Linked DNA regions of Homo sapiens. The protein of the gene in region 3 interacts with the protein of the main gene of each other region in a biochemical or structural test. Each region holds a gene or a part of one and is shown on either strand. Other genes may lie near its edges.

Region 1 (3,500 bases), on a different chromosome or scaffold from region 3:
TGACCTAGCCACTTTTTTCATGGAACACTATTTTTACTTGAAAAAACGACTGACAGACAAATTATGGTTATTCAGACTTAATGGTTGGAAGATGTTTTCACAAAAATGAGCAAAGTGAGTCTATGGCTTCAACGATAACCATTTATAGCATTTATTGCTAATGATAAAATTTCAGCTTCCTCTGAACTTGTCCCAGAGGCATGGTAAAAAAAGAAAAAAAAATTGAGCTTCCCAGAGAAAGTTAGAATTTTAGAAAACTTGTATCCACTTCTGTGAACCTGACAGATTCTCAATACTTAAGATTTTTCTGAATTGTGTGGTTAACAATCATGAATTTTTTATTGAATAAAATATGTTAGCATTTGGAAGACGTGCATAACTCAGTGACATAATGTTTTCCAAATAATCCAATGCATGGTATTACAAAAAGCATCAGTAAAAGATGGGTAAATGTTACATCTGAAGTGCAAGACAGACCAATAGATTTTAATGTAACAGTGTAAGAAAAGTTCACTCATGTGGCTTCAGATTCTACATTGCAACTATCTTTAAGAAACTACCTCTTGCAGAATTACGGTGTAGTATCACTTAATCTCCATAATTATCCTGAAAAGCCTATGAAAACATAACATACTTTCCTTTTTCAACTGTCTGTCTGTGTGAAGGTGGACATTCTTCACACACTTCGACCAAAACAGTGTATCACAAAAGACTGAATGCAGAAACAGATGAGAATTCAGCTGTCTTAAGCCAAACATTAAGACCCGAAAAAAAGGTTCAACATGGCCATTCTTCTCATTATGTATTTTTGGTTTTGAAAAATGTCCTTATTTTATAGATATCAATATACAGTTCTCATATTAACCACAGAAAAAGGAAGAACTCCAACCCTGTCTTTTACCAAACCTAAATGAAAAGCACAGAAAACAAACTGTGTTTTCTAGTGTTTGAAAGTCTACAAGTGACCCACAATTTCCAAAAACCCTCTGAGAAAAAAAGAAAACATTTACTGAATACCTATTATACCCCGTGGACTATGCTCAGTGCTTTCACATAGAACCTTTTCATCAAATTTGAGACTGGCATTAAGGCTGAAAGAAGTCAAATGGAGGAAATATGGTAAAGTACAAAAAGAACAGACTCTGACACACCTGAATTAAAATCATTCCCTTAAATGTTATCTTATTAAATCAAAAGCACAAGAGTTTCTTCTTTAAAATTTCTTCTTTAAAATAAATTCAATATGTATAAGATTGAGAGAAATGTGAATACAGTTAAAAGCATATACAGTAGGTGCTCAGAAAGTTCCCTTCAGTCATATTCCTCTTTTCTGTTCCAAAACTAAATCAGCGAGTAAGTACCAAAATCAGAGATCAAGGTTAAATCTGATGACATGCTCTTGTTTCATTCATCATTATAGGCCTCAAATAGATGAATGCTACTCCAGAAAACATTTAAAAATATTTTAAGGACCCACAACCACTATCAGGTATTAGAAATCAATGTTTAAAAACTACCTTTGCATTTTTTTTTCTAAAGTAGCTTCATTCTTTGAAATCTAAATCACTCCTACAATTCTTCCCAATCTTGTACATTCATTTGACATACTTAGTGACTACGAAAAATAAGGGCATCTTGGTATCTCCAGGAAAACTATCAATGAAGCAATTCTCAAACTGGCTACCTTGTAAACCAGGAAAGTTGGCAAGAAGTACAGAAACAGTCATTTAATTCCTAACTATATTTCTATCAGATATTTCATATTGTCACATGCTTGGACTATTATGTGAAAAATTAGACAGTAGTTATTTTAAGTATAGTAAATATGTTCCAAGATTTGTGGTGAGAGAGATCAGTCTCTAAAAGTTAACAAGACTTAATACCTTAACAATGCTTTTCACTCTGTACACTTTAACAAATCACTGAGGCTCTTTCAAAACAACAAAACAGCTGATCAATTTATTAAACTCTTGCCAACCAAGCACCTTTTTTTAAAGTTCAAGCTGACTTCATATTTTATGTTTGTGTGGATAATCACAAGTTTCTAATTATGTAGCATTTTAATATTCTTTTATATTTAGGGTAAGTTGTTTTCTTAAAGTTGTGTTTTTAAAAGATCTAGTTATATTTTATGCTCTATTTGAACCTAGACACTCAGAACTTTCATAAAAAGTATGCAGGTTTATTAGGAAATCTACAAGAAAATTCCCCTCTACTTTAAAAAACATAAATTATATGAGCTTAATTTACTTTATCCTGACAAGTTTTTTATTTCAAGTTTGGTCACTACCCATTTCCTGTGTTGCACTGTATATACCCTCTTTTCTATGGTTACTATTCTCAAACTAAGACTGGGGATCTTCTACAACACTGTAAGAAGCAGCCACGCCATGGTGAATATCATCTGATAGTTCCTGATAATTATTTTAAATGGATACTGAACATATGCCTTCTTTGGTGCGTTTGTGTTTCAAGAAACTTAACATGACCACATTTTAGAGGAGTCAGAATGGTAGAGAGAGGTAGGAACAAATATCAGATTGAAATCTATGAATAACTTTCAACTCTAACACTCAGAAATTACAACTTTAAAAGGATCACTAATTTGGTGTGCCTAAACTGCCCTTCAATGAGCAGCTACATGTCTCTGTATTAAAACCTTTCCCTATTACTTGTTCAATGTAACAAGTTATACAAGCAGAGAGAAAAAACAGCCACTGAAAATAAGGGAGTAAGAGAATCAATTATACTGAATCTTGTTAAATCCCTTCCCTCCCCCAAAAAGAAAAGCTGAAGGTGATAAAACGCTCAGAGAATTGCCAGGCATCTTCCTAACATTACCTATTAATCTTCACAACACTCATGAAGCAGATGTCAAGTACCTCTAGTTTTACAGATGAAAGAACCATAAGACTAAGCGATTTTCCCCAAGGTCATACACAAAGTTAGAGATCAAATTAAACTAAACTCTAGGACTCTGTATTCTTCATCATTTCTAATCAAATAAACTGTTAGATCATAATATGCTACAATTACCTCTCCCTAAATGCTATACTCTGTACATGGGCTGTTCCAATAAGGTAGCCACTAACCACATGTGGCTATTAAGCACTTGAAATGCAGCTAGTCCAAGTGGAGGTATGCCATAACCGTAAAATACAAACTGGATTTTGAACGTATGAAAGGAATAATATGAAACGTCTCAATTATTTTACACAAATTAGATGTTGCATGGTATTTTGGATATACTGGATTAAGTTAAATTCACTGGTCCATACTTCTTTCTGAAGACTTCCCATGAAATAGATGTCATCATAAGATCCAAATCAAAAAGCAATTATTTTCTCAGAATTTGCTGTATTCTACAGACATTATGTAACACAATGTAGTAACCATATCTAAAGGGTGATTAAGTGTTTAGAGAGATACAGCATATATGTAAGTAGGCTGATAAGTGCTTAGAGAGATAGACCAGATATGTAAGTAACAAATACACAAAG
Region 2 (3,733 bases), on a different chromosome or scaffold from region 3:
ACAAAAAAAAAATCCTAAATGTTCTTCAGGGAAGTAACATACCTAGATATTGAGAGCAGTGTAACACTAAAAAAATGAACAGTTCCAGTAGGTGGATATCTGGGCCCAATATGGGGAAAAGGGCACTGATTTCTCAAAAGTTAAAAGCAAGCAGGCCAGGCAATGTGGCTCACACCTTGAATCCTAGCACTTTGGGAGGCCAGGGTGGGAGGGTCCCTTGTTATTAATAGTTGGTCTTGAAAGAGCGGTGTCAGGAAAAGAGGTTTATTTTATCAGAAAATGTTGAAGATTAAGAGATTTGGTATGATGGGGAAGAGAGAATATAAAAGGAAAAATATACTTGGTCATAATTTATGATAAATATGTGGCCATTAGAGCATCAGAGCATTTTTTTCTTTCTGATTCTGAAGAGAGCAGCTATAAAGTTCTTTGTTAAGCCAGTTTCATTGCAAATAAAAGTAGAATCATAGCCATAAAGACTGCAACCCACAGTCGACAGTCCTACCTGAGCTGCTGGCAACAACATTGTGATCTAGTCTGGATTTAACTGTCTTTGTGTATTTCAGCGTGGGAGATGCTATCTGTACCATTGCTGCTGCTACCTGCTTTCCAGAGCCTTTCATCAATGAAGGAAAGCGGCTGGGCTATATCCATCGAAATTTTGCTGGAAACAGATTTTCTGATCACGTAGCCCTTTTATCAGTATTCCAAGCCTGGGATGATGCTAGGTATGAGTAAGATTTGGGTGAGCTGTCTGTAGTTTCTCATTTGTATTTAGTTCTCTGGTCTTAGAGAATGATTTCTCATGCCAATTTATTTTAGAATGGGTGGAGAAGAAGCAGAGATACGTTTTTGTGAGCACAAAAGACTTAATATGGCTACACTAAGAATGACTTGGGAAGCCAAAGTTCAGCTCAAAGAGATTTTGATTAATTCTGGGTTTCCAGAAGGTAAGACTTCTTCCATTCTTAAGATATCTTTAAAGTGACATTTATATAGTACATGCAAATTGACAGCAAAGTGTATTTTAGTTTCAAATTTTAGACCCTATGATTTTTATATATTCCCGACTATTTCTTAGTTCTCGTGAACACTGGTCTAGTTCCCAGAATGAGTACTTTGCTGATAACCTTATAGTGGTTTGCAAAGTAATTTATTAGCATTTAGACTTGAAGTAAATTCTACCACATTAAATTTTAAATGACTTTAATTTATACTTTCGGTGTACAGATGATTAAAGGACTTTATGACATCTAACATAGAAAAAAACCAACCCATGTTTCTTGATGAGCTGTAGTACTTTTCTTTTCCAACTAGGTTAAAATATAGAATTACTTCCTAAAACATTGAGAACTGGAATGCATAACCAGAAATAAGACTGTTGAGAGACAGAAGGTAGTTGGGCAAGATGGTAAATTTTTAAAGGCTGTAATTGGAATAACTAAACAAAGTAGTGAGTGGTTCTCTTCTGTCATAAGCCAGCCGAAATTTTAGTTTTTCCTCAAAATTATAAGAAAGGGAAAACTTCATGTGCTAGAATCTTGAGATGAATTTTACAGGTAATGAAACAGGCACCAAGGTATAAATTGTCTTTAATTCATCCAATTAGGAGGCTATAAGACTAGAACTCGTTTGTCTAGAACAAAATATGTCTGTGCTTTCAGCGGTTGACTGTCATGCTTTCCAGTCAGTAGCTAAGTACTCAAAGTGTAGACTGGGTAAAAACGTCAGCCTTCATTCCAGTAGGTGTCCTCTTAGATTATCTCCATCTTCTCTACAACTAACAGCTATTTAAGAGTAGCAGATAAATACTTTGTGGTCCTATCAGTCAAGCTCTTATTCTCAGAGTAGATGGTTGATTGGGGGACTTTAAAAAGTAATCACCCCGGCCGGGCGCAGTGGCTCACACCTGTAATCCCAGCGCTTTGGGAGGCCGAGTCAGGTGGATCACGAGGTCAGGAGATCGAGACCATCCTGGCTAACACGGTGAAACCCGTCTCTACTAAAACTACAAAAAATTAGCCGGGCGTGGTGGCGGGTGCCTGTAGTCCCAGCTACTTGGGAGGCTGAGGCAGGAGAATGGCATGAACCCGGGAGGCAGAGCTTGCAGTGAGCAGAGATGGCGCCACTGCACTCCAGCCTGGGCGACAGAGCGAGACTCGTCTCAAAAAAAAAAAAAAAAAGTAATCACCCCAAGCTTATTTATGGTTGAGTCTATAAGAGAATAGAGACGTTTTCGTTTTCTTATTGTGGAAACTCAGTAACATTACTCCTTGAACTTAATCTGGGTGTAAGGATTCTGAGAAGAGAAAGTTTTACAGACAGGTTATGTGAAAAGAGTGAGGAAGAGTCAGTTCTCTGAATTATCTTAAATAGTTTGCATGTAATGTGAAGATCAGCCAGTTATCTGATTTTTGTTTTCACTGTGCTCCTCTTAACAGATTGTTTGTTGACACAAGTGTTTACTAACACTGGACCAGATAATAATTTGGATGTTGTTATCTCCCTCCTGGCCTTTGGTGTGTACCCCAATGTATGCTATCATAAGGAAAAGAGGAAGATTCTCACCACTGAAGGGCGTAATGCACTTATCCACAAATCATCTGTTAATTGTCCTTTTAGTAGCCAAGACATGAAGTACCCATCTCCCTTCTTTGTATTTGGTGAAAAGGTAAGAAAAGACTAGAAAAGTTTACATTGAAAGTTGAAATTGTCTTTACAATCATTAGGAACATGAATTTTGATTTTCAAAGCACAGTATATAGCGGTATTTGGAAGTTGGAATGTCAACCATTTTGTATTGTCTCTTTCTCCATTTGCAGATTCGAACTCGAGCCATCTCTGCTAAAGGCATGACTTTAGTCACCCCCCTGCAGTTGCTTCTCTTTGCCTCCAAGAAAGTCCAATCTGATGGGCAGATTGTGCTTGTAGATGACTGGTATGGATTTTCAGATGTGAACTCCAAACTGAATTCTTAGAATTACAATATGATGGAATTCAGCTGCTAATCTAACTTAATTATATACTAATTATATCTAACTTAATTATATACTATATACTTAATCTTAAATTGATACCAGTAGAAGCAAATGCATTAGGAATTTGAGCCATGTCTACCACTAGGCACACCACCACTATGGAATCAGAATCTAAGTGAAGCTTGAGTACCCTTTCACATACTCTGTATATTGATTCAAAACTAGTGGTAAGCACTGGGCAAAAATGGAATAGAGCTTAATGGACAGCCAGTAGGCTCAGCCATCATATTCTTGAAAACCTAGAAAATGCCAGTATTCTGGGTCTCTTAAATTCATTATTTTAAAGTCTGGATGATCTGGCTGGGTGCGGCACATCACTTGGGCTCAGGAAGTTCAAGATCAGCCTGGACAACATGGTGAAACCTGTCTCTACGAAAAATCCAAAAAAATTAGCCCCGTGTGGTAGCGCACACCTGTAGTCCCAGCTATTCTGGAGGCTGAGGCAGGAGAATCACTTGAACCTGGGAGTTGGAGGTTGCAATGAGCTATCACGCCACTGCACTCCAGCGAGGGCAACAGAGCAAGACTCTGTCTCAAAAAAAAAGAAAGTCTGAATGATCCATATTGCTGGACTTTGTTTTTTGTTTATTATATATTGCATATATTTTTATTATATTTTATTTGGCTTGATAGACTTTTTGGCTTAAGACTCCTGCTCATAGCTAGCAGTGAATTTTAAGAAGCTAGTGCTGATT
Region 3 (3,733 bases):
AAGTCAGGTAGAATAAAACCAGCAGCAAAATTGCTTGTCTCCTTGAAATTCTGACAGCACAAACTCTGTGAAACCCCCCTTCATGTAACCATTAATGGCATAATCTATCATCTAGTCACGAAGACAAAATCTCAGCTTTTGACTATTATTTTCCTACAAGCACCTACTTTCATACCTTTAGTCCAACCAATCACATCAAGACCAATCTACTTCAGAAATTCTCCCAACCTCCTCTCCATTCCAACATTTACAATGTTTACCATTTAACACATCTTTTTTCCTCTAGCCACAGGCCTGTTTCTAAAATACCATCTATAGGACACAATCCCAGAACATGTAATACAAAGCCCTTTACAACTAACATTCTTTACAATTTACTTTACAGCTGGCTGCTCCTCAAACACATCAAGGCCCCTCACAACTCAATCTTTGTTACATGTGTCATCTTTGACCTGTGAGTTCTTGAAGATTTGTCTATTTCTAATGCACTGACATATTAATATATTTAGCCATGGAGTAATAACAGCACTCTGAAAACCTCTAAGAATTTCATACTCGTTACTTATATACTGTATTACTAGTCATGCACCACATACAAAATGTGCTAAGTTTAAAAAGTCCTCAGAAAGACCATTGAACTAAACCAGTCTTTTTGAACCAGGTTTCTTGCTCACCAAGTCTCCGCTGTCATAATAAAGCCTGTTATCAAACCTGCCATTTATTGGCAGTTTCTATTTCGTGTTGCCCAAAGTTCTCCAAATAAGAATTAAAGAGGCCAGGAACGATGGCTCACATCTGTAATCCCAGCACTTTGGGAGGGCGAGGTGGGCAGATCACCTGAGGTCAGGAGTTTGAGACCAGTCTGGCCAACATGGTGAAACCCCGTCTCTACTAACAATACAAAAAAAAAAAAATTAGCCACGCATGGTGGCAGGCACCTGTAACCCCAGCTAATTGGGAGGCCGATGATGCACAAGAATTACTTGAACCTGGGAGGTGGAGGTTGCAGTGAGCCGAGATCGAGCCACTGCACTCCAGCCTGGGCAATAGAGCAAGACTCTGTCTCAAAAAAAGGAAAAAAAAAAACAGAGAGAGATGAGACGACTCAAGAAAAGAGCTGACAGTAAATCAGTCTCTATGAAGGCTAGCAAGATGTCCCACAATGACTGAGAGTTCTTTTAATTCTAAAAGGTGTCCATCCTCAGGCGTAAGAGTTACCTTTTGAGGCTGGTAGCACCAGACGGGTTTCATCTATGTCTCTAACTGGCAAGTATCCTGATGTAGGTAGGGTCCACGAGATATGACAAAAAAGAATGACTGTCCATAAGACAGTGATGTATCCTTTTTCAATTGTAATGTCGCATCCATTTTCAATCAAAACGTCATTCACATACCATAAAATTCACCATTTAAAAGGGTGCCACTCCGTGGTTTTTATTAGTTCTGCAATATCACCATTATCTAATTTGAGAACAATTTCATGGGTGATCAATTATAAGGGAAAGTGGGGTTCCAATTTATTACAATCTGAAGAAAATATATCTAGTTTATATCTAGATATAGTTTTAGTATGAAAACACTGCAGTATTTGTGGCACAAATCAGAAAACACATATAGATCAAGACTTTTATGAGAATTTTTTAAAGAATTATAAGAATAGTGCCAGGTTGGGCCAGGTGCAGTGGCTCATACCTGTAATCCCAGCACTTTGGGAGGCCAAGGTGGATGGATCATGAAGTCAGGTGAGGAGTTTGAGACCAGTCTGGCCAACATACTGAAACCCCATGTCTACTAAAAATACAAAAAATCAGCTGGGTGTGGTGGTGTGCACCTGTAATCCTAGCTACTCAGGAGGCTGAGGCAGGAGAATCTCGAGAACCTGGGAGGCGGAGGTTGCAGTGAACCGAGATCTGCACCACTGCACTCCAGCCCGGGAGACAGCACGAGACTCGTTTCCAAAAGAAAAAAAAAAAAAAAAAAGAAAGAAAGAATAGTACCAGGGTAGCTGTTGACGAACATCAATTTCATGTATATGCCAGCCTACCTAAGGACTTAAAGATCTATTTTTAGAGTACTTCCCAATCTCGCTTAATTCAACAACTACAGCTTTGAATACTTGTGCATTCCCAACATTGTGATAAAAATTCACTTTTATTACAACACCTTTCGCAAAACAAAACCAGCGCCTTCAAATGAATATTAAAAAGAGGGCCAGGCGTAGTGGTTCACACATGTCATCTCAGCACTTTGCGTGGCCAAGGCAGGGAGATCCCTTGAGCCCAGGCGGGTGGACCACCTGAGGTCAAGAGGTCAAAACCGGCCTGGCCAACGTGGACAAACACTGTCTCTACTGAAAATACAAAAATTAGTTGTGTGTGGTGGTGCACACCTGTAATCCCAGCTACCTGGGAGACTGAAGCAGGAGAGTCGCCTGAACCCAGGAGGCAGAGGTTGCAGTAAGCCAAGACCAACCCACTGCACTCCAGCCTGAGTGCCAGAAAAGACTCCATCTCAAAAAAAAAAAAAAAAAGGGGGGGGGGGGACAGTGATTTTTACTCCGATTTACATATGAAGACCCAGAGCTTTCACTCAGAGCCAATTTCCCATCTTCTTTGATTAAACAATTTAACATAGTCAATGAAGTATCGCTGTTACCATTTAAAATAAAAATCTAAACCTTATGATAATGAATCTTCAGAATGACTTCTTAGAAGATATTAATACCATTTTTCTAAGTTGTTATTCCACCAGGTCATACCCAACCTATTTCCCAGGTCCAAATTGACCTAACATTTTCCAAACCAGCAAAAAACTCCTGTATCTGCCCCTCTCCCCACTAAACAAACACTCCTCCTCCTTTCACCTTCATTAACATCTATCATGTAAGACACACACTCAATTCCTCAATTCTCCAACCCAACTTGAGTAAGTTCCCATCATGTGGACACCTCCTAAAATTCATTTTCCCAACAAAGATCTCAGTACTCTAAAAGTCAGCTCTTTGCCAGCTATTACCTAGTTGCTCCACTAGTTATCAGTAATCATTATCTACTGGCTGACGTTAGAACAATAGAAGACATTACTTTTCACTGACAATAACATGCAGCAATATATCCGACAGTAACTACTAGTATCGGCTGGTGCAAAAATAATTGCGGTTTTGCTTTTTACCGTTCAAAGAAATGTCAAAAACGGAATTACTTTTGCTCAAACCTAATATATTGTTGTCTATTGAAAATCTGAAGAGGCCACCAATTTCTGTGAAGATATTTCTGCAAACGTGATTTCTTTAGATTTCTCTGCAGTATATATCTCATTGTCTCAACTAATGTTTTCCAAATTCCCTGCTCAAATTTTCAAATTTCCCCATTCACAATGTGCCTTGCCAAGAAAAGACTTTTTAATGAGAACTATTTTCAAGAAGACTGTCACTGTATACTGCTAAAACTTGATACACTCATAAAAAACATCAACTAAGAGTCCATGACATCCCTGAAATTATACCAACAAAAGTGTGAGTTTATTAAACTGGTCTGAATTGAGCCATGACAAAGAAATAGGATAATAATACACAGAAACACAACCACGTCCTTAATCTTTTATTAATGATTCTCAACTCTGACTGGACAAAAGAACACATAGAAAGCACTGAAAAATATACTAGTACTTAAGAAAGTCTGCATAAGACCAGTTGTGTAAGAATCCCTATAGGAGAAGCTGGCATGAGTATATT

What was found.
Region 1: the proteins of HNRNPC (region 3) and KPNA4 interact in a test that uses a peptide from one of them, tested with the Homo sapiens proteins (one study listed by BioGRID).
Region 2: the proteins of HNRNPC (region 3) and DHX9 form a complex in vitro, tested with the Homo sapiens proteins (one study listed by BioGRID).

What each region holds. Positions count from the first base shown.
Region 1 is NC_000003.12:160,559,072-160,562,571, forward strand, and holds part of KPNA4 (importin subunit alpha-3), read right to left. Parts: intron 1-3,500. UniProt on the Homo sapiens protein: Functions in nuclear protein import as an adapter protein for nuclear receptor KPNB1. Binds specifically and directly to substrates containing either a simple or bipartite NLS motif.
Region 2 is NC_000001.11:182,880,698-182,884,430, forward strand, and holds part of DHX9 (ATP-dependent RNA helicase A), read left to right. Parts: intron 1-566; coding exon 567-728; intron 729-822; coding exon 823-950; intron 951-2,441; coding exon 2,442-2,671; intron 2,672-2,822; coding exon 2,823-2,938; intron 2,939-3,733. UniProt on the Homo sapiens protein: Multifunctional ATP-dependent nucleic acid helicase that unwinds DNA and RNA in a 3' to 5' direction and that plays important roles in many processes, such as DNA replication, transcriptional activation, post-transcriptional RNA regulation, mRNA translation and RNA-mediated gene silencing.
Region 3 is NC_000014.9:21,224,366-21,228,098, forward strand, and holds part of HNRNPC (heterogeneous nuclear ribonucleoproteins C1/C2), read right to left. Parts: intron 1-3,733. UniProt on the Homo sapiens protein: Binds pre-mRNA and nucleates the assembly of 40S hnRNP particles. Interacts with poly-U tracts in the 3'-UTR or 5'-UTR of mRNA and modulates the stability and the level of translation of bound mRNA molecules. Single HNRNPC tetramers bind 230-240 nucleotides.